2 separate regions of the Homo sapiens genome follow, and region 1 is linked to region 2. Evidence: fine-mapped expression QTL. A gene starts in region 2. The other region holds a variant in brackets. All regions are shown on one strand. Distances are between the middles of the regions.

Region 1 (8,000 bases), 220 kb after region 2:
AACTGAATGGTTTGCCAGGTTGGTTGTTTACTGGATTCCCTGCGGAGAAATCTTTCAAGAAGCTTCTTTCCCATGGTCTTCCTGTCTTAGCTGATTTCCGTTAGTGACTTCTGACATCTCTCTCTTGAATTCTGTCTACACTTTCTACAAGGCGTTGTGTTTGTAACAGCCTCTTTTTCAACTCTTGTCATCTTGAATCTCATTTATAGAATTATAGTCACCCAAATTAATGCCTTTATGGTATCCACATTGTAGCTTTTACTTGGGACAGATAATTAGAATTAAAATTGTGTATAAATGAGAGTGACTAATCAAGTTTTTAATTAGCCAAATTACAGTAAGAGAATTTAAGTATTTTCATACGTATCTCAGGTAGTCTTTTTTTTTGTATTTAATTTTTGTGGGTACATAATAGGTGTATTTATGTGGCACATGAGATGTTTTGATACAGGCATGCACTGTGAAATAAGCACATCATGGAGAATGGGGTATCCATCCCCTCAAGCATTTATCCGTTGAGTTATAAACAATAAAATTATACTCTTTAAGTTATTTTAAAATGTGCAATTATTATTGACTATAGTAATCCTGTTGTGCTACCAAACAGTAGGTCTTATTCATTCTTTCTATTTTTTATGTACGCATTAACCATCCCCGCCTCCCACCCAGCCCCCACCCAGGTAGTCTTTTTATCCATTCTAGTAAAAATTTATTAAGCTGCATAATCATATAAAATTAAAACATGTCAATAAGGTGATGATCTTAGTTCCTTAAAAATGAGAGATCTATGTCCTAATCCTTTGAAGACTAGAAATAAGCTCTAGAGAACTCCAGAAGCTAATGAGATATATACTCTTTGACTAATTAAACACAAGGGTCAAAACCTTGTTGTGATTATCTGAGACCTAGAGTATTGGCTGTCCCTCGTTTTGGTTGAAAAATAAGATTGTGTCTCTTGAGTTGTTGGAAAACCTGTGGTTTTTAATGAGCAGATGGTATTAAGATGCCCACTGGTTGCCTGGGTTGAATGAAGTGTTTGGGATTTTCAGACTTTGGCTTCTCTCTCCTCAGAGTGTCTCAGTTTTGTTTCCTGATCTGGAAAAAGTAAGGAAGGAGGAGGGGAGTTGGTAGGGAAAGGGAAACAGAAACAGTGAACCAGTATTACAGGATTATTCTTTGTCATGTTGGGTGCTGCTTTCTGTTTTATATATGTTTGATGTGAACTTTCTAAAACACTCAGCCTAGCGTATTTTCTAAGAAATATTTAGTTGCAGCCAGATTGTCACCAAGAATCATATTCCCAGAAGGTTTTCAAATTGTGTTAAGAGTATAGTGGTTGGCCGGGTGTGGTGGCTCACGCCTATAATCCCAGCCAAGGCAGGTGGATCATGAGTTCAGGAAATGGAGACCATCCTGGCTAACACTGTGAAACCCAGTCTCTACTAAAAATTCAAAAAATTAGCTGGGCATGGTAGCATGCGCCTGTAGTCCCAGCTACTTGGAAGCCTGAGGCAGGAGAATCGCTTGAACCCGGGAGGTGGAGGTTGCAATGAGCTGAGATTGCGCCACTGTACTCCAGCCTGGGCGACAGAGCGAGACTCTGGAAAAAAAAAAAAAAAAGTATAGTGGTTATTAAACATGGAGGACAGATAGCCCAGGTTCAGACTTCAACTCTGCCTCTTCCTGGGACAAGTTACTTAACCACTCAGTGCTTTTGATTCCTCATCTGTAAAATTAGAGTAACAAGAGAATCTACCCCAGAGGGTTGTTGTGAGGATTAAGTAACATGTAATGGTTAGAGAAGTGCCTGGCACATAGTAATCACTTGATTAACGTTAGTTATTATTATTGTTGTCCTTATTGTTATTAGAGTAGAAAGAGTACCTATAAATGACAGTACATTTTCCAGGGTTATTTCTATTTATTTATTTATTTATTTATTTATTTATTTGAGGCAGGGTCTTGCTCTGTCACCCAGGCTGGAGTGCAGTGGCATGATCTTGGCTCACTGCAACCTCTGCCTCCCGGGTTCAAGCAATTCTTCTGCCTCAGCCTCCCGAGTAGCTGGGATTATAGGTGTGGGCCACCACGCCCGGCTGATTTTTGTATTTTTAGTAGAGACGGGGTTTCACCATGTTGGCCAGGCTGGTCTTGAACTCCTGACCTCCGGTGATCCACCTCCCTCAGCCTTCCAAAGTGCTGGGATTACAGGCATGAGCCACCATGCCTGGCCTCTTTAATTTTTTATTATGGCAAATTTCAAACTGCAAGAAGTACAATTGAATTTTGCTATATCTGTGTTAGCTGTTTGTTTCATATCACCAAGTCTTAAATGTCAGCCACTAGAAAGTAAGTGCCATAATTTGGGACCTTGTCTGTGTTAGTCACCATTTACAGTTTATGAAAATAGTTGTCAAATGATAGTTGGCCCTCAGTAAATATTTGTGGACTGGATGAATGAAGATACTGTTTTGTGCTAATCCAATTCTGGTTGGGATCTGCTTGTGGTCTAGCTAAGATTCACTCTTCCATTTGTTCATTAATTCACTCATTCATTCATTCACTGAAGCTTTATTGAATGCCTTTTATGGATCAGCAGTGTGAAGCTTTATTGAATGCCTTTTATGGATTAGCAGTGGTATCTCTGGGATTTGTATGTAAATGAACAAAGGGGTGGCAATCCATTTGGAAAGGGATTGGCTAAATGGCATGTCTAGATGTTGTATTTGCATAGTAAGTGCGGTTTTTTTTTAACCTGACAGGTTATTTATTTGGGGTGGAGCAGATCTGGTGTGGTTCATCGGAATGGAGTTAACACCTCCTACCCTAAGTCACACCTTGGATCAGCTGTCATATACAGGTTTCTCATTTAATGCTTTGGATTGTCCCTACATTGGAGAGAAAGGGGGTATGTATAAAAGTCATTATAATGTAAGGGGAAAGACTAGCAGACGCATGTCCAAAGCATCAATGAGAATAGAAAGGAAGAAACTACTAACTTTCCTCCAGGTCAAGAAGGAAGGGATGGGATATCCTTGGTCTCTTTTTAAGGAATGTGGTATTTGAGCAAGGTGTTAAAAGACGTTGGGAATTCATGGTACTAGCAGTGTGCATGTGGACAAGGAGTGAGCATGAGTATGTTGAAGGAAGAGGTGGGTTGGGCTGGGGTGCAGGGGCTGTGGTGGTGGTAGTGGAGGAAGTGGGCAGCTGAAGGGGAGGTGGTGCCTCTTCCTGCAGGGCTCTGCCAGCCCACTCACAAGCTGCCCTTCTTCTGGGTGGGTGGGCAAGTTGGTGAAGGAGTTCAGTTGGGCAGCAGCATGATCAGATTTATACTTTAGAGAGATAACTGGGGAGGTGCTGAGGAATGTGGACTGGAGATGGGAGAGGAAGTAGCTGGGAGACTTGCCAGCCCCGGGGCTCCATGGTCGATGACTAATTGGCCAGGCACCAGGAACTTCTAGTAGCTCTTGGAAAGGGGCAGATGGGCCCACCTCATGCACACTCTTTAAGCTGGATCGCCGTTGCCTGGGTTGGCAGCAACACTGACAAAAGAGCCAAGTTTCCTTTCAAAGAAAATTCTTTTGTGTATTTTGGGAATGAAAAAGCCAGGAGTCAGCATTCTACTATCTTCATTAATAGATAGGCTAAGAAGATAGAGACAATTTTTAAATTTGAAGTTGAGAGGGCCTTGTTAAATAGATTTACATAGATATACACATGGGCATAAACATGTATAGCTATAAATCACAGATATGTGTTTATTTATATATACCTTTGCATTCAGCAGGTTTATCTTTCTAATTAGTTTTTTAATCAACTTTTAATTTTAGAGTAGTTTTAGATTTATGGAAAAGTTGTGAAGATAATAGAGTTCCCACATACCTCACACCCGGCTTCCTCTCTTGTTAACGTCTTGCATTAACGTGGTACGTTTCATATTATCTTTTTTTTTTTTTTTTTTTTTGAGACAGAATCTTGCTCTGTTGCCCAGGCTGGAGTGCAGTGGCGCCATCTCGGCTCACTGCAACCTCCGCCCCCCACCCCCACCCGATTCAAGCAATTCTTCTGCCTCAGCCTCCTGAGTAGCTGGGATTACAGGCACCTGCCACCAGGCCTGGCTAATTTTTGTATTTTTAGTAGAGACGAGGTTTCACCATGTTGGCCAGGCTGGTCTTGAACTCCTGACCTCAAGTAATCCGCACACCTTGGCCTCCCAAAGTGCTAGGATTACAGGCGTGAGCCACCATGCCTGGCCCATATTATCATTATTGACTAACATCCATGCTTTATTCAGATGTCCTCAGTTTTTATCCAGTGTCCTTTTTCTGTTGCAGGATCCCATCCAGAATACCACATTTAGTTTTCTCATCTTGTTAGGCTTTAACAGTTTCCCAGACTTTCTTTATTTTTGATGACCATGGCAATTTTCAGTTTTGTAGAATGTCCTTAAATAAGCATTTGTCTGAAGTTATTCTCATGAGTAGATTGGAGTCGTGGGTTTTTGGGAGGAAGGCCACAGAGGTGAAGTGCTCTCATTACATCATATTAATTCCATACTTATCGCTATAGATGTTAACCTTAGTCACCTTGGCTGACGTAGGTGTTAGTCAGGTTTCTCCGCTCGAAAGTTCTGGTTTTTTCCCTCTTTCCATACTTGACTCTTTGGAAAAAGGGTACTCTGTGCCCCTCCCACTTAAAGAGTGGGGAGTTTCATTCTACCTCCTTGAGGGAGGAGTATCTAAAGAAATGAT[T/G]TGGAATCCTTCTACACAGGAGATTTGTTTATTCTCCTCCGTCCTAGTTGGGTTTTGATAAGGGAATTTTTTTTATCTGTTCTCTGAATTCCAAATGCTAATTCTGTAGCACTTGTATTATATTTGTCATTTACTACCTAGTGACATCACCTACATTTGTGTGTGTGTGTGATAAGTAAACAGATTTATGTCTTATTTACCCAAGGAGATTGTAAATTTCTTGAGGACTGGGACAGCATCTTATTTAAAGCCCCTTACAGAGTTAGATACAGTGCAGGCAGTTAATAAATAGTAAGCAAATGGTTTTTAAATTAGTTTAATTAAAAATTTAAATATTAACCATAGTTAACTGAAACAGGTCATCAAAGTCTAAGCATATGAGAAATGTGGTAAGATAAGGATACTGTTTACTTGGCATCCTGATTTGTGAAATTGTCCTGAACTTGTAATTGTGGCTAATATGATATTTACTGTGTGCCAAGCACTTTTGTAAGTACTTTACATATATTATTTAATTTTCCAGACAGCCCTGTAGGTTGGTGCCATTATCCCCATTTTATAGATAAGGAAACTGAGATGAACAAAGGTTGAATAAGTTGTTCAGGATCACAAAGCCAGGAAGTAGCTCAACTGGGATTTTGATCTCAAACACTCCGGCTCCAGAGTTTTGAACACTTAACCACTGCGCTCTAGATTCATTGAAGTGGTGATTAAAATGGTATCTCTTTTGGGGGAAAGAACAAAATTGTGATTTAAATATTTCATTTCAACCTGTTAGGATGCTCCTGATGACATGGCAGCAATGTTGCTGTATTTTTCCTAGGGGGAGTATTTCCATAAAGCCACGGCTGTTTTTCCTTCTTCTGTGTGTGTGTGTGTGTATGTGTGTGTGTGTGTGTGTGTGTGTTTATGAGTAATTTTTGTGTAGTGCAACTAATTGCATTTAAAATACAGGCATGTTCATGATTGATATGTCATATACAGACTATATTCTAGATATCCCTCACTCTCTAGCCATGTGATCTGTTGAAAGATAGTGGGCTTTTTATTTCTTCTCTGGCATTTTTAAACAGACGTGATCACTAGGTCTTGCCAAATAAACACTCCCTCAGTGTGTTCCTTGTCCGAATGGTCACACCTGGGGGCCCCAGGAGGGAGCCCAGATTGCAGCAGCAACATAGGCGAGGGAGGAGGACTTCTCTCGAAGCCACCCAAGCCATGAATTGGCCCTGGCTTCCTGAACCATAAACAAATGCGAGCTTTGTTCTCCCCATTCCTCATTTGGTCCCAAGTATGACTCAGGGTTAGGCTGGGTCCTCAGGCTCCGTGCTGTTGGAAGGAAGTGGGAGGATTCCAGGGGAGTTCTGGGACCTTTTCAAACTGAAGAGAGGAGGCTGGCTGCATCATGGGAGAAGAGGTATTTCTTTTTTTTTTTTTTTGCTTTTAGAGTTGTAATAAATCCAGTTAACCTGTATCTTATCTGTATATAACATTTTGTAGCAAGACTGGGTAATGGGTTTGCATTAGTGGGTTGAAACAATGTGTGTGCCAGCTAGGATCCCACAGAGGGGAGCTATGGATAAGCTGAGGAGGAACCTATCAAGTATACGGATTATTTGCTAAAGCTGAATGTCACTCTGGAGCTATTTAGCCGTTTTAATCCCTCCCACTTTGGTCAATTTGGCCATTAATTTTTACAGATGTTTCCAATCTCTCTGTGTCTTGGGTTTTCATGTGCTCATATTGCAGAGAGAAATTTAGATGGGCAGTTTGCACAAGCGGTAACTGTTACACCATGTCACAGAGATGTTTAGCAATTACAGATGTTTGTGCAGTAAACAAATCCAGCTTGCTTTTCAGGTTAGCTTAGAGAGAAGGGTATGTCCATGCAGAGCAAGCCAGCTGTGGGGCGTTTCACTCTTGAGGGTCACCGACATTTGGAGTTTTCTTTGTGAGTGGAGCAGCTGTGAGTAGTGACTTCTGGGTGCTATTGAACTGCTTTTTTTATGATGGGGTAAAGATATTTGGCTAGTTTTGTAGTGCGGGGCATTTATAGGTATGTACTCATGTATGGAGAAAAATTAAGACACTAAATTATTTTGATTTTATAAAAGTTTGCTAGAAATAAGTGGTCTTGTTTTTCTCTGTGAGTTGTTCATATTTGTCTACCTAAAAGCAGAAGTCTGTCATTTTCCAAACACAAAATTCCCTAAATAAACCACAGGATAAGTAAGGCTTACAGTGTGTCATATGTCTTCCATATCCCTGTCTCTCATTGAAAAAAAAATTTTAAGGGGAGAATTGATGAGGTCTGTAAAATATGTCCCTTTATGTCTTTTTCTGTTGGCTTTAACTTATACTATTTTCAAAATTACAAAAAAAAAAAAATAGCGTGGCCAAAAGGAAACACATTGTTTTAACATATCATTTTAAGAGTAGGGGAACTTCTTGAAAGGTTTTTAAATGGCATCTGTTGCTTGCCTAGAAAGGAGGACAGAGGCAGATATATGAGGAGAGTGCCGTTAGGGGTTGGCTAGGATAAAAATATATTCATCGGCAATGGCTTGAGAGGATTTTCCTAGGGAAAGATAGCTTATGTTTGCTGATCTTATGCTGGATGTCTTTGTTCTGAGTTCTGATGAGTAGAAATCTGAATGAGGTATTTATATGCAAAATAAAGATGGTGAATCTTCTTCCTTGGGGAAATGAGTGAAAGCATGATTGATTGTAAGGTGTGAAAAACGTGGGAAAGTCTCAGCAGCTAGGGCCTGGAGATGGGAGAGGAATGGTAGCCCCTGGGGGGCCTGACAGGTTTTGCCTTGGTCCTGTGATGTCTGAGCTACTTGTTGCACTGGTAAGTGCTCCCTGAACCCTTTGCTTGTTTGTTTCTCAAAATGGAGGTAGCTCTGTTACTTCTCTCATTACAAGAGCTCTTTGTAATAATAATAATAATTATTATTATTATTATTATTCAAAGTTGAAGAATACAAAGAAATAAATAGAAATCATCCTCAGCTGAGTGCAGTGGCTAATGCTTGTAATCCCAGCACTTTGGGAGGCTGAGGCAGTTGGATCACTTGAGGTCAGGAGTTTGAGACTAGCCTCGGCAACATGGCAAAACCCCAACTCTACGAAAAATACAAAAATTAGCTGGGTGTGGTGGCATGCACACCTGTAGTCCCCAGCTACTCGGGAGGCTGAGGTGGGAGGATCGCCTGAGCCCGGGAGGTTGAGGCTGCAGTGAGCTGA
Region 2 (14,395 bases):
ACCCGGAAGGCCTGGGGCGGGGTCCCCAGCGTGCATCTCTAACAGGTTCCCACATGCTGCTGCTGCTGGGCTGGGGACCACACTTTGAGAGCTTCTGTGGTCCAGAAAAGAAAACTTCAGCTGGGGAATAGAATCCTTAACCCAGGGCTGGCAAGCAAAACAAAGAAGATGAACTTGACTTACTTCCCACTTTTGCCTCTGGCTGGTCTGTAATTATTTTTGAGAAGAGGAACTTGATTTGACTGACTCTATTTAATAAGAAGTCGTGCTAGAAAAGGGTTGTGCCATCTCTTATTAAGTGACCGCCTGGTTCAGAGACTTTTCAATTAAGTCCCATAGCCTCGGGCTTGAGGATGCATCTGAGGTTGGCTGTCTGCTTTGGGGCCTTCACAATCTAGGGGATGGCTGTGGCGTTTCACCGTCAGCTCAGGCCACTGGTCTTGGTTTCTCTGAACCCCGAGGTGATGGGGTGGTGGTTATTGTAATTCTGATTTCCTGTTTGGGAAGCAGTGTGGGGGTATTATTGGAGGAGTTAAAACACAGGGAATATCGTCCCCACCCAGCCCCATATAACCCACCAATCACATATGTATTCATTCTCTTTTGGTACTAAAATATACATAACAAAATTTGCCATTTTAACCATTTATTAATGTACAGTTCAGTGGCATTAAATACATTCACATTGTTGTGCGACCATCACAACCATCCATCTCCAGAACATTTGCATCTTCCCATACTGAAATGCTGTAACCATGATCACTCTTTTAAAATCTTTAACAGCTTTTATTGAGATATAATTTGCATATCACATAATTAACTTTTTTTTTTTTTTTTTTTGAGACGGAGTCTCGCTCTTTTGCCTGGCTGGAGTGCAGTGGTGCAATCTCGGCTTGCTGCAACCTCTGCCTCCTGGGTTCAAGTGATTCTTCTGCCTCAGCCTCCCGAGTAGCTGGGACTACAGGCGCACACCACCATGCCCAGCTAATTTTTGTATTTTTGGTAGAGACAGGGTTTCACCATGTTGGCCAGACTGGTCTCAAACTCCTGACCTCAGGCAATCCACCCGTCTCGGCCTCCCAAAGTGCTAGGATTATAGGTGTGAGCCACTGTGCCTGGCAATTCACCCATTTTAAAATGTATAATTCAACAGTTTTTAGTATATTCACAGAGTTGTGGAACCATCAACACAATCAATTTTAGAACGTTTTGTCACCGCAAAATGAAACCCTGTACCCATTAGCTGTCACTCCTCAATTCCCCCAGCCCCTGACAACCACTAGCCTACTTTCTGTCTCTATGGATTTGCCTGTTCCAGAAATCTCATATACATGGAACCATATAATAGGTGGCTTTCGACAACTGGCTTCTGTCACTTAGCATCATATTTTCAAGGGTCAACCATGTTGTGGCATAAATCAGTACTTCATTCCCTTTTGTATTCATTTTTTTTTTTTTTTTTGAGACAAAGTCTTGCTCGGTCACCCAGGCTGGAGTGCAGTGGTGCAATCTTGGCTCACTGCAGCCTCAAACTCCCAGGCTCAAGTGATCCTCCCACCTCAGCCTCCCATGTAGCTGGGACTACAGGCACACGCCAGCATGCCTGGCTAATTTTTGCATTTTTTTGTTTTTGTTTTTGTAGAGACAGGGTTTCGCTGTGTTGCCCAGGCTGGTCTTGAATTCCTGGACTCAAGCGATCCACCCACCTTGCCCTCCCAAAGTGTTGAGATTACAGGCATGAGCTACCGAGCCTGGCTGTATTCGCTCTTAATAACATTCAAATTTGAATTCATTATCTCCTCCACATCCCTACCCCAACAAAAACTTCCTTCTCCACTTAGTGGATTTCTCCACTTAGTTGAAACTCCATTATCTATCCAACTTCCAAGCCAACTAACAAAATATCTCTATTGAATCCTCCATCTTTGCTCCCTATCCTCTCGTCAAATCCACTGCCTCATCAGAGCCTGTCAAATGTATTTCAAAAATGGCTCTAGAATGTAACCTCTCCTCTTTGTTAGTATCATTGCCATCATATTTCTTGCCTTTACCACCTCTGGCCTGTTGCTGGCCTCCCACCTGCAAGCTCTTCCTCCAGTCCTTTCTCCACAGAGCTCACCAGTTACCTCCCTAAAAACAGCCTGCTTAGAAATCTGTGCTCCAGGCCAGGCACGGCGGCTCATACTGGTAATCCCAGCATTTGTGAGGCCGAGGTGTGTGGATCACTTGAGGCCAGGAGTTTGAGACCAACTTGGCCAACATGGTGAAACCCCATCTCTACTAAAAATACGAAAATTAGCCAGGTGTGGTGGTGCACACCTGTAATCCCAGCTACTCGGGAGGTTGAGGCAGGAGAATTGCTTCAACCCAGGAGGCAGAGGTTGCAGTGAACCGAGATTGTGCCACTTCACTCCAGCCTGGACAACAGAGTGAGACTCTGTCTCAAAAAAAAAAAAAAAAAGAAAAGAAAAGAAAAGAAAAAAGAAACCTGTGCTCCTACCCATTGCCTGCAGGGTCTTGTTTGATCTGGCCCTGACATAGAAACCATTTAGAATCAGACATTTCACTACACTCCTGCCCCTTCCACAGGAGACCCCTTGAAAATGCCATCTGTTCTGCAGACTCTGCACATCCTCACTTGTTCTTCCCTCTGTCAGGAACACGGGCCAATGTCTGTGCAGCCTGGAGGCTGAGCTCCAAAGGAACCCAGCCTGTGAAGGAGCCCCTGAGCTTAGCTTCTCCCGAAGGTTCTGGGACAAAAAGAGAAACTATGTTTGCAAGTCAATTCCTACTTTTAAATTTTCATTACCGATGAGATCAAAAGCCTCCCATAGTAATTTATCAGTTTCCATTTTTAAAAATTGGCCTGTTGATACAGTTTATTCCTATGTTAAATGCCATTGTTCTATTTAATGTTAACATTTATTTATTTAGACGGAGTCTTGCTCTGTTGCCCAGGTTGGAGTGCAGTGGCACAATCTCGGCTCACTGCAACCTGTACCTCCCGGGTTCAAACGAGTCTTCTGCCTCAGCCTCCCCAGCAGCTGGAATTAACGTGCGTGCACCACCACATCCGGCTAATTTTCATATTTTTAGTAAAGACGGGGTTTCACCATGTTGGCCAGGCTGGTCTTGAACTCCTGGCCTCAAGTGATCTGCCTGGGTAGGCCTCCCAAAGTGCTGAGATTCCAGGCGTGAGCCACCATGCCTGGCTTAATGTTAACATTTATTACAATATATATATCACACATATGATCTTAATGTCTGGTGCTTTGGGAACTTTTTTGATTATCATTTGATTTGCCTTTTAATTGTGAAAATGTAGTTCCTTACACATGACCCCTTGTGATTTTGGTGGGGGAGGAAACCAGCAGGATGGGTAGAAAACAGTAGAAACCATGTTTTTTGTTAATCTCCTGGGACCATTCTCCCAATTTACTATTTTCTTAGACAAAGCAGTGCTGTGGAAAAGGATGGAAAAATGTTCTTGGCAAGTTCATCTGTGCACCAGGGCTCTTTTTGCGCACTTTGGATACAAGCTTGTGTGACCAGTCAGCTTGGGAGTTGATTACTCAGGCATTCTTTGGATTTTTAAACGAGGACATCCTATTTTTGTAGCATTGTGGACATGCACGTCTCACCTTCTAGTTGCTTCCTTTGTGTTTTCCTTTGTTTACAAAGCGAGGCGTTCCCACAAACCTTGTAAAGAAGGTCATGGTTTAGCTGTTTCATAAGTGATCTACTTCTCTGATTTGATTCGTTTGTTCATCTTTATAGAGCAGGTGAACCCAGTCCTGTTAGATTTGCTGAAAAAGATTTACTGAAAAGGAAAAAGAGGGAAGGGAGTGGGTCATTCTAAGAGAGGCTATCAAGCCAGGTAAACATAATAGAGCAAGACATTTGTCATTAATATTTCTGTGGCTTTTGATCTAGACATCAGTTACCTTTAACCTGGTGTGCATGAAGCAAAGGAGGAATGGAAAAGCCTGCCTCAAAACCATCAGGCTCACACCTGTAATCCCAGCACTTTGGGAGGCTGAGGCAAGTGGATCACTTCAGCTAGGGGTTCGAGACCAGCCTGGTCAACATGGCAAAACCCCATCTCTATTAAAAATACAAAAATCAGCTGGGTGTGGTGGTGCACACCTGAGGTACATGAATCTCTTGAGCTTGAGCTCAGGAGGCAGAGGTTACAGTGAGCGGAGATCACATCATTTCACTCCAGCTTGGGCGACAGAGTCAGACCCTGTCTAAAAAAAGAAAAAAAAAAAGCCATCAGCACAGAGCCATGACTGCTTGCTTAAAGTGAACAGACACTCCTCAAAAGAAGCACTATTCACAATAGCAGAGACTTGGAACCAACCCAAATGCCCATCAATGATAGAATAAAGAAAATGTGGCACATATACACCATGGAATACTATGCAGCCATAAAAAGGATGAGTTCATGTCTTTGCAGGGACATGGATGAAGCTGGAAACCATCATTCTCAGCAAACTAACATAGGAACAGAAAACCAAACATTGCATGTTCTCACTCACAAGTGGGAGCTGAACAATGAGAACACATGGACACAGGGAGGGGAACATCACACACCAGGGCCTCTTGGGTAGTGGGGCGCTAGGGGAGGGATAGCCTTAGGAGAAATACCTAATATAGATGACGGGTTGATGGGTGCAGCAAACCACCATGGCACGTGTATACCTATGTAACAAACCTGCACATTTTGCACATGTATCCCACAACTTAAAGTATAATAAAAGAGAAAGAAAGAAAAAAAAAAGTGCTGTTTGCCAGAGTTCTCCAAGTAAAGTTACTATTTCCCCCATTTTAAATATGAAGACATATTTATTTCAGGGAAAATACTTTGAGGCTATGCAAATATTCTGTTTCTCCTTAAAGTTTCACCCACTCATTTGTGAACGGTAGTTGGATCATGCCTATATTAGCAGTTACTGTGATGTTCTAATGATGCTTTTCCCTTTCTCTCATTTCTCCTACACTTTAATTGGAATTCCTCTGTAAGGAAGACTTGTCCCTTCTCCTTGATATTTTCCCCTAGTCAGTTATTTAGTTGTATTTCTATAGACTCAAAGATATTAATTTTCTTCCAATACAATCATTAATTATTTTGTTGCTTGAATTGCTCCAGCTTTGGCCTTTGGGAGCCCTTTGGGGTTGGCTCCTGTGCCCTTCTGCTGTGCCCTGTCACCTTTGTTGAGTACATCTTTACTTTCTGGCACTGTGAGATTTTTACATTTCTCCATAAAGTTCATCAGAAGCACTATACAATGAGTGTCTTTTGTACAGCACTCAGCACGTAATTTATATTAATGTAAAGACAATATTAAAGGTTATCAAAGTATTGTTCATTAAAGGCAAATTACAGATGTTAAGTCCGAGTACTCAGAGATAGCAAGTATGAAAGACAGAAGCTCACCCACCTTCAATTTTTTCTTTTTTTTTGAGACAGGGTCTTGCTCTGTCACCCAGGCTGGAATGCAGTGGTGCAGTCACGGCTCACTGCAGCCTCAACCTCCCAGGCTCAAGTGATCCTCCCATTTCAACCTTCTGAGTAGCTGGGACTACAGGTGTGCGCCACCTCATCCGACTAATTTTTGTATTTTTTGTAGAGACAGGATCTCACTATGTTGTCCAGGCTGGTCTGAAACTCCTGGGTTCAAGTGATCTACCCACGTCGGCCTCCCAAAGTGCTGAGATTACAGGCATGAGCCACCATGGCCGGCCACACCTTCAGTTTCTATCCAAAAATATGTTACTACTACTGAGCAACATAGCGGTGCCTTTTAAGTCATACGATATCATTTTAAGTGTAACAGCTCCGATACTTTCTATTTCCAAACTGCATAATCTCCTCTGGTGGAAATGGGAGTTCAGTGGGACAAAGATGTATTAAATAAAATCCTATTTCTCTAGAAATATTCATGAGATGAATTTACATCATTTGAAATATTGCAATAACCATTTTGTTAAAAGATACTCTTGTAAGAGGGAGGCAGGATGAGAAATTATGCATCTATTCATGTCAGCAGCTGGATCTGAATCTTGATATTAACTTCCCTTGTGCTGGTCAGCAAAAGTTTCTCCAAGGAAAAATGAAAGGACAATAGGAACAATTCAGAAGAACTAAACAATAAGTGAAAAAATGGAAGGTTCATTTTCATAAGTCAGAGAAACTTAAAATGAAAAATAAACTATAGTGTTTTGGATAGAATCACCACAACTTTGTTTAGTTAAGGCATTAAAATTAGGGCACATGTCCCGGTGCGATGGCTCACGTCTGTAATCCCAGCACTTTGGGAGGCCAAGGCGGGTGGATCACCTGAGGTCAGGAGTTCAAGACCAGCCTGGCCAACAAGGTGAAACCCCATCTCTACTAAAAATACAAAATTAGCTGGGCGTGGTAGCGCATGCCTGTAATCCCAGATACGCGGGAGTCTGAGGCAGGAGAATCGCTTAAACCCGGGAGGTGGAGGTTGCAGTGAGCCAAGATCCCACCATTGCACTCCAGCCTGGGCAACAAGAGTGAAAGTCCATCTCAAAAACAAAAAAATAAAAAATAAAATTAGGACATAGCTCAGGGATTTTCAAAAATATTGTCTTGCCATCAGTCTTTCTTTTGTGGTAACGCAAATTTGACCACGCAGGAAGCAGATCAAGGAGGAGCGACACCGCATTCCTGTCCAAGAAGGAAAAGATATGCCTTGAAATAGACCAGAGAATAAACAAGACTCAAAACTTCAAGCAAGTCGGGCGCAGTGGCTCAGCCTGTAATCCCAACACTTTGGGACACCGAGGCGGGGGAGGATCATTTGAGCCCAGGAGTTTAAGACCAGCGTGGGCAACATAGTGAGACCTCATCTCTACAAAAACTACAAAAATTAGCCGGGTGAGATGGCACGTGCCTGTAGTCCCAGCTATTTGGGAGGCTGAGGTGGGAGGATCACTTGAGCCCAGGAGGTTGAGGCTGCAGTGAGCCATGATCACGCCACTACCCTCCAGCCTGAGTGACCGTGAGACCCTGTCTCAGAAAAAAAAAAAAAAAAGACAACAAAACGAAACAAACCCCCCAAATTTCAAGTGATCTGTGTTCACCTGTGTGAAGTTGGAAATAAAATTCCATGAGAAGACTGTCTTCTCCACATAGGACAGAGAGACCAAGCAGGACATAAGACAAACTGCTGATTTTTTCTTTTTCTTTGAGCCGACAGGGTTCCCGCACCCCATCTGCTGGTTTAGGTGTAGTGGCCTCTGTGATGCCTGGGTAAGTTTAGCTATGGGAAGGTATCATCAACAATGTTCAAAGACTTTTGACTCATCATTGTGAGAATGCACTGGGCAACCAGCCAAGAATCTTCAGCACTCCAGATAACAGTCCACTGCAAGGCCAGCACAACTGTTGCCATGTTGAAATGTACCCCATCACTTTCAGGGGTCTGAGGCTCTTTGAGAGAGGGTTAGGATGACCCACTGATACGGCCTTACCAAAGAGAACCACCTCTGGAATTGAGCAGACCCCCATACCAGTTCTTCTGGGGTTGGGGGAAAAAAAATGTCCCAGTAGCAGAGGGTTTATCCAGGCTCTGTGAGTTTCAGTGTTTGTCAACTCTAAGATGGTATCAGAAGGCTTGATTGCCCTGATTAGAACATGATATAACAAGACATGTAATGAGTGAGGCACCAGGGTGCCTGGAGGAGGAATATTTGAGTATTCATCATCCCTGCCTTCAACATTTCACATTCTTTTTTTTTTTTTTTTTTTTTGAGACGGAGTTTTTCGCTCTGTCGTCCAGGCTGGAGTATAGTGGCGCCATCTAGGCTCACTGCAACCTCCACCTCCCAGGTTCAAACAATTCTTGTGCCTCAGCCTCCCACGGAGTTAGGACTAAGGCATGCACCACCACGCCTGGCTAATTTTTGTATTTTTAGTAGAGAGAGGGGCTCGCCATGTTGGTCAGCCTGGTCTTGAACTCCTGACCTCAGGTGATCCGCCCACCTCGGCCTCTCAAGGTGCTGGGTTTACAGGCGTGAGCCACCGTGCCTGGCCCACTTCACATTCTTTTCTTTTCTTTTTTTCTGAGACGGAGTCTCGCTCTGTCGCCCAGTCTGGAGTGCAGTGGCACGATCTTGGCTCACTGCAAGCTCCACCTCCCGGGTTCACACCATTCTCTTGCCTCAGCCTCCGGAGTAGCTGGGACTACAGGCGCCCGTCACAACACCCAGCTAATTTTTTGTATTTTTTAGTAGAGACCGGGTTTCACCATGTTAGCCAGGATGGTCTCGATCTCCTGACCTCGTGATCCGCCCGCCTCGGCCTCCCAAAGTGCTGGGATTACAGGCGTGAGCCACCGCGCCCGGCCTTCACATTCTTAATCTCCGTGTTCTCTGATCCCTTTTTTAGGAGTCTGATATTGATGACACTAGGACTTCAATTGCAGCCTCTGTGTGGATGGGCCTCTTGTCCCTTGATTAGTCTCCTATTTCGATCGGTTTGACACACATGAACGGTATTTAGAAAGATGATGCTACTGATCTCTTGTTTGTAAGACCCTGACTTTGAGGTTTTTTGAAAAACTCATGAAACAGTTATAAGAACAATTTTCTACAGAAATCCCAGGACGGTAACCAATTTACAAGAGTTGCCCCGCCAACACAGGTGAGGTATGGAGACAGCCCCTCTCTTGGGTAGGGGGTCGGCTTTCATTTGTCCCTTTTGAGTCCACTAGCCCTCAGCCTCCTCCATTTCCAGGGGCCACTGATGTAATTTCTCTATTGTCTTACGTGCTCTTTGCCTAAATGTCTCCCATGTAGTTCACTATCGCTTCCTACCACCAGATGGTGGAAAGGGAAAAGGAAATAACGGGCCGGTAGAGGAATGTGGTGGCAGGCAGAGTATCTATGGCGAAAGGTGTGGTGGTGAATGGACCCAAAACGGAGCTTCTGAATTGCCCACGAATGCCCACGGATTCCCTGTTAACATTTTAGCGCCCACTCAAGGGTCGGCCGTCCAGGTCTGGGAGTCAGTAAGGCACAATAATGCCTGCTAGGGAGGGAGCCAGCCCTCATCTCAGCGGATTCCTGGGAACGTCAGAGCTCGGGAACATTCCTGAACACCCGAACCGCACCTGGCCCAGGCACTGGGGCGGGGCTTAGGCGGGTCCCAGCGAGGCGATGCGTCCCCTCGGCCCCGCTGCGTCCTTCGCCCGTTTTTCCCCACGTCAGTGCCACCGCCTCCTCTGTGCGGAACTCGCACCTGGCCTGCCTGCGTTCCCACGCCCCACCGAAGGGACGCCGCGTTTCTCTCCCTTCCAAGGGACCCTTTTCCTTCCCCTCCAACAGCCCCCCGGGAAAACTCATTCCAGATTGCCTCGATGCCCCAGGGCCACCTGCCATCACCCTGGTCAGGCGTTTGGCCCCGGGCCTGCCCTGGTCTCCATCCCCAGCCCGTCCTCCACCTCTTGTCGCCCCCTCCCGCTCAGCCCCCTTCTCCTCCTTCTCCACGTGCCCCTGCACTCCCACGCCCCTCCCCCAAGAAGCCCCTCTCCTCCGGTCTCGAGGAGTCTCGCGGCACTTCCCGGGGCGTCAGCCCAGCCGCTGCGGGTGGGTGGCAGCCGCGCGGAGAGGGGTGCCTCTGGCGCGGGCGGTGAGGAGGGCGCCCAAGCCCCTCAGCCGCAGGGACGCCCCCGGCGCCTGCCCCGACGCGGCCCCGGCCCCGGCCCCGCCCCTCTCCGGCCCCGCCCCCGCCCGGCGGCCGCGCGTCCCCGGCAGGCGGAGCTGCAGGAGCCTCGCGGCAGCGCTGAGGAGGAGGGGAGAGCGGGCGGCGCGGCCGCGGCTGCCGGGCGCTGGGCTGGGCGGCGCTGTTTTTTTTTTTTTTTTTTTTTTTTTTTTTTTTTTTTTTTTTTTTTTTTTCGCAATTTCCACTCGCGGGGAGCAGGAAACCCGGCGCAGCCGGGCGCATTGGGCCGCGATGCAACAGCAGCAGCAGGAGTCGCCCCGGGGCAGCAGCGGCAGCAGCAGCAGAGGCAGCAGCGGGCGGCGCTGAGCCGCCGCCGCCGCCACTGAGGAAGAAGCCGGCCCAGCCGCCGCCGCGTCCGGACCCTCGCGCCTGGATCCCAGCGCCCCGATCCCGGCGCCCCAACCCCCACGCCCGCCTCCGCCAACTTTCACGCTGCCTCGGCGGCCCGGCCCGGCTCGACGCCAATGGGTGAGTGGGGGCCGCCCGCGTCCGGGCGTCCACTTCAGCCTTGAGGGCGGCGCGCCAGTCCCAGAACCGCGGAGCCCGGGAGGGCGCCCCGGGGGCAGGGTCCGGACGGGGGACACCGCGGTGGGCGCCCTCGCCTGCCTCGCGCACCCCCATTCACTCCCACTTGCGCCCGTGTGCCCGCCGAGCCCGCGCGCGGCGCCGACGGGAACCCGCGGGGGCCTGAGCAGACGATCACGGGGGCTGGCCCCGGGCGGCTCGGGCTGAGGGATGCAGGGGGTGTGGTTGGTTTTTCGGGTGGGCGGGGAGAGTTTTGTCTTGGCCATTTTTGCACCCGAGCGCGCCCTCCTCTGCGCTGCGGACACGGGCACCCGGACCTGGTGGGCTCCGGCCCTGCGCGGGGCTGCTGGTGTCTTCCTGGTCCTGTCTCGGGGGAAGCTGGAACCTCGGGGTCTTGGAGGGGGCTGGGTTGCCTTTGCTGGGGGTTGACAGGGGTTGGGGGGTGGGGCGGGAAACGCCCCAGTTCCTGGTCTGGCTCGCAGTCCCGGGGTCCAGAGCACCTGACGCTCCTCTCCTTGCGCCCCCCTTCCTCCCGGCCCCGACCCTTTCGCTGCTGCCTTCCTCCAGCCTGGCGAGCTCTCTGCTCCGTGATGCTAAAAGGCCACTTCCCATACTGTCCTTTAAGTCTTCAGGGTCTGGGACCTGGAAATGGTGATCCGGTCTTTGATTTACTGAGTAAACATCAGTTCGAAGTAGCCAACTAACCTTTGAACCCCCTGGGTCCCATTTGATTTAGACCCCGGAGCATTGGAACCACCTTGCTGCCCAGAGAAGCTGCCACTTTATTGGCAAGGCACTTATGATTACTTGGGCTATTAAATGTTTGGTCTACCCAGGTAATGTTCTTGCTGACAGCCAGCTTCTGTTTTTCAGCCTCTGGCAGATTATTTTTGGATGTTCCTAGGCCAGGCATAGGAAGGCTGCAGATAATAATAAATCATAATAAAGTGAGACCTTTCTGTGTTCAGGTAATAGGATTCCAGTACACTAGTCAGGATGTTCAGAAAGCCTGAAGGATTGGAAAAGAGGAGGTTTAACCCAGTCCGTTGTTGACAGGCAAAGTTAAAATCCCATTTGTGGTCATTTGCCAAAAAAGGTTTTCCTTTTCTAAGTAGTGGTGATCTGTTGTCCCCTTGGCTTAAATGTCACTTTTTTCACAGTGCCCTTCTCTCCCACCTGTAGTCTAAATTGGTTCCTGTTCCATTTTCTCATACAACACCTTTTTTTTTCGTAGCAGTATTACATATTTGTGCGTAACAGTTATCTCCTCTACTGTAAGCTCTGTGACCATAGGGACAGCACAGTGTTGCATAGTTTGCTCAGCACTTTTGGTGTGTGGCACAGAGCAGGACCTAAATATTTGTTGAATGAATGAATGAGGGGCATGAAATCCTCCTCCTCTGCTGGGGACAGAACACTTAGCTCACTCTTGTTTTGCTTTGGCCCATAAGATGATTTAGTTCATTGGCAGAAGTATATACTTTAAACCTTACAGGCCACTTTAGTAATGGGTTAATTTCTCCCGAGGTAACCAAAAATTCTGTTTTGATCACCTTTCATTTTGGGTGGGTCACCGAGAGGGTTATGCACAAAAAGAAGTTAATCCAAATGTCTTCTCCCATGGCCAGACTGTGCTTTCTGTATCTCAATGAGAAGGGGACTGAGTCTCATTTAAGAAGAATCAGACCTATTTTTCAGATTTGAACTGTTTTCATTCTTCAGAACTTCCTACGAAAAATAGAGTGCTCCTGTAGTTTTTAGTCCTTTTGTACTTAATCTTTACTGCAACCATTATTGCAGGGGGAGGGGGCATCGATTTTCATTTATTTCAGGAGTTAATACTTAGAGGTGATAATGTCAAAACGAATGTAATTTAATTCATGTTTATAGTGGGATTTAAGGTGCTTATAGTAGTTTGTGGCTAAAAATCACCTGCTCTTTTGAAAGCATCTCCAGCAGTATATTTGTAATGAAGTGCAGTTATTTAACGGTTCATTCTGTATGTCTTCCAATGGAGTGATCTAATGGGCTGAGGTTGTGTGTATGCAGACAGAGGCCCACCCTTTCCCCCAAGTCTCTGGTTTTCAGATTTATCCAGTTTATCAATTTGATGCAATTTTATTCTTTTTTAAGAGGGAGGGTCTCGCTGTGTTGCCCAGGATGGATTTGAACTCCTGGACTCCAGATCTTCCCAAGTAGCTGGGACTGCACGCTCACACCACTGTGCCTGATTCTGATACACTTATATTCTTACCTGGCCTGATAATGAGTTTTCTCTTGATGGATAACATAGTAAAACTGTATCTTATATTTCGTTTTCTGAAAAATAACAGAAAAGAACCAAATCCCTAACCCTGAAGTGAAGCTGGTTAGTTGCAACATGGCCTCTTATAAAAGCCCATCAGAATGTGCCCTCTGAACTTGCTAGGAGATGCATGCCTACAGTGCCAGACACAGAGAAAGCCTCTTATAATTACAATTAAACAGATATTATGGTGACCCAAATCTGTGAGTAGTGAAGGGTTTGCAAGCCCACAAATGATTTCTGTTTAATTCCAGAGTAACAACAAAGTTTGGATAGCCTTTGGCAATGTATTTATTGTATTGGCGGTAGACTGCTGTATGCTAAACTAAAGCTAAAATGAACATAATGTGTTGGTCTGTACAAATGTCTTGAGTTAGAAATGGAAGAAAAGGCTCCCACCTTAATTGTACATAAGCTTTACCCACTTCTATCCATCTTGGCACGAGCAAAAGCTTGCTGTGGCTCTGGTTACACAAACCTTGGTGGTTTCTTCTCTTACTACTTCAGTTCTTTTGGCGTTACTGACATTCTCTCATCAACTCTTGAGTTTGTAGTTGTTTTTAATGTATTTTGCATACAGCAGTATTTGTTCATCTATCCATCCATCCATCCATCCAATGTTTGTTGATCTTCTTTGCATAGGCACTGTGCTAAGAACAGGTGCAGAACAGAGACATGACACTTTGGGCTTCTCAGTCTAATGAAGGCTGACTTGAATGCAATTCTCATGGCAGTATGTAGCTGAAAGCCATAGTAGAGCGCATGAAAGATGAGTGGAGAAGGCCAATCTGACTTAGCCTGGAGAGTGCCCAGGACAGTGTCTTAGAGGAGATTGTGTTTGAGCAGAAATCTGGTTGAGTATGAGTCATCACTGCCCTCCAGCCACACCTGGTTCTTGTGGCAGAGACTGAAAACGAGCACCGTGGGAACCGCGGGGCATCTCAGTAAGATGGTACAAGGAAGGATGACTTAGAGGGCTTGCACCTGTGTCAGGTGGCTTGAGGGCGTGTTTAAGGAAGCTGGGCATTACTTTGGATTGGATGCTACCAGGGGGAATTTGTGATTGGGTATTTTAACAAATGTTCTCTAGGAGCAGGGAACATTGGAGGCAGGCCACAGCTATGGTTGGTAAAGCAGCAGCAGTCATTTGCATTATCCAGGATTGGGGGATATTTGGTCATGTGTGTGGTTTGGACAAGGTGCATGTTTTGTCCGTGTTCAGACATGATTAATGTGTGGTCTTGTTTTCATCTTATTCCATCCTGGTCGCAGAGTGGCCTTGTCTGATGTTGGTTTTCTAGGGAATTGTTTCTGTTCAACAGGACACCCTGGCCCAGCTGTGGGTGCCTGGCCAGCTCCCAGCCAGAAGAACTGCTCTTTCTCCGAGTTAACTATGTGACAGGCAGGGGCAGGGAATCGGAGGCAGTGGGGGAGGAAAATGGCTTTCTAGGTATATCTGTGGCTACTTCATATCAACCAGGTATAGCCTGGACTGTTGTTCAATGCTAAGCACGATGGACATCTGAAATGCTATACTAAGGGAAGAGAGAGTGACAGAGAAAGAGCAAGCTGCTGAGAACCATGAAGTCAGTGCTAATGGGAAAGACGCAGAACAGGAAAATAGCCCAAATACTTAGTGTTAGAGAAGGAGAGCCTCTAATGCAGCGCTTCTCAGAGGGTGGCCCCAGGCCAGTAGCACAGCCTCCCCTGCAACCCGTTAGAGATACAGATTCTCTGGCTTCATTCCAGCAGACCTCCTGAATCAGGAATGCTGGGGATGGGGCCCAGCAATCTGCATTTTCATGAGT

Alleles and levels. Positions count from the first base shown, and alleles are read on the strand shown. Sizes are in standard deviations (SD) of each study's normalised expression.
With allele T in place of G in region 1, the expression in tibial artery of the gene that starts at base 9,932 in region 2 is higher (small effect, 0.11 SD a copy in GTEx).

The links. PIP is the estimated chance that this variant, and not a neighbour inherited with it, causes the effect. A credible set is the group of variants that fine-mapping cannot tell apart.
Region 1: its variant is the best candidate, but not a certain one, in a credible set for the expression of SH3KBP1 in tibial artery (GTEx, PIP 0.69).

The regions. Positions count from the first base shown.
Region 1 is chrX:19,669,030-19,677,029 of GRCh38, reverse strand. All of the region lies in intron 6 of SH3KBP1 (SH3 domain containing kinase binding protein 1), which reads left to right. Among named protein-coding and RNA genes, the nearest start is that of MAP3K15, 160 kb to the right of the region's middle. The variant T/G (reference allele first, on the strand shown) is at 4,752.
Region 2 is chrX:19,883,137-19,897,531 of GRCh38, reverse strand. It overlaps SH3KBP1 (SH3 domain containing kinase binding protein 1), which reads left to right and starts at 9,932. Exons shown (of 18, transcript NM_031892.3): 1 at 9,932-10,225. The coding sequence starts at 10,222. RefSeq lists an enhancer at 7,266-7,315 and silencers at 9,481-9,780, 9,841-9,910, 10,391-10,530.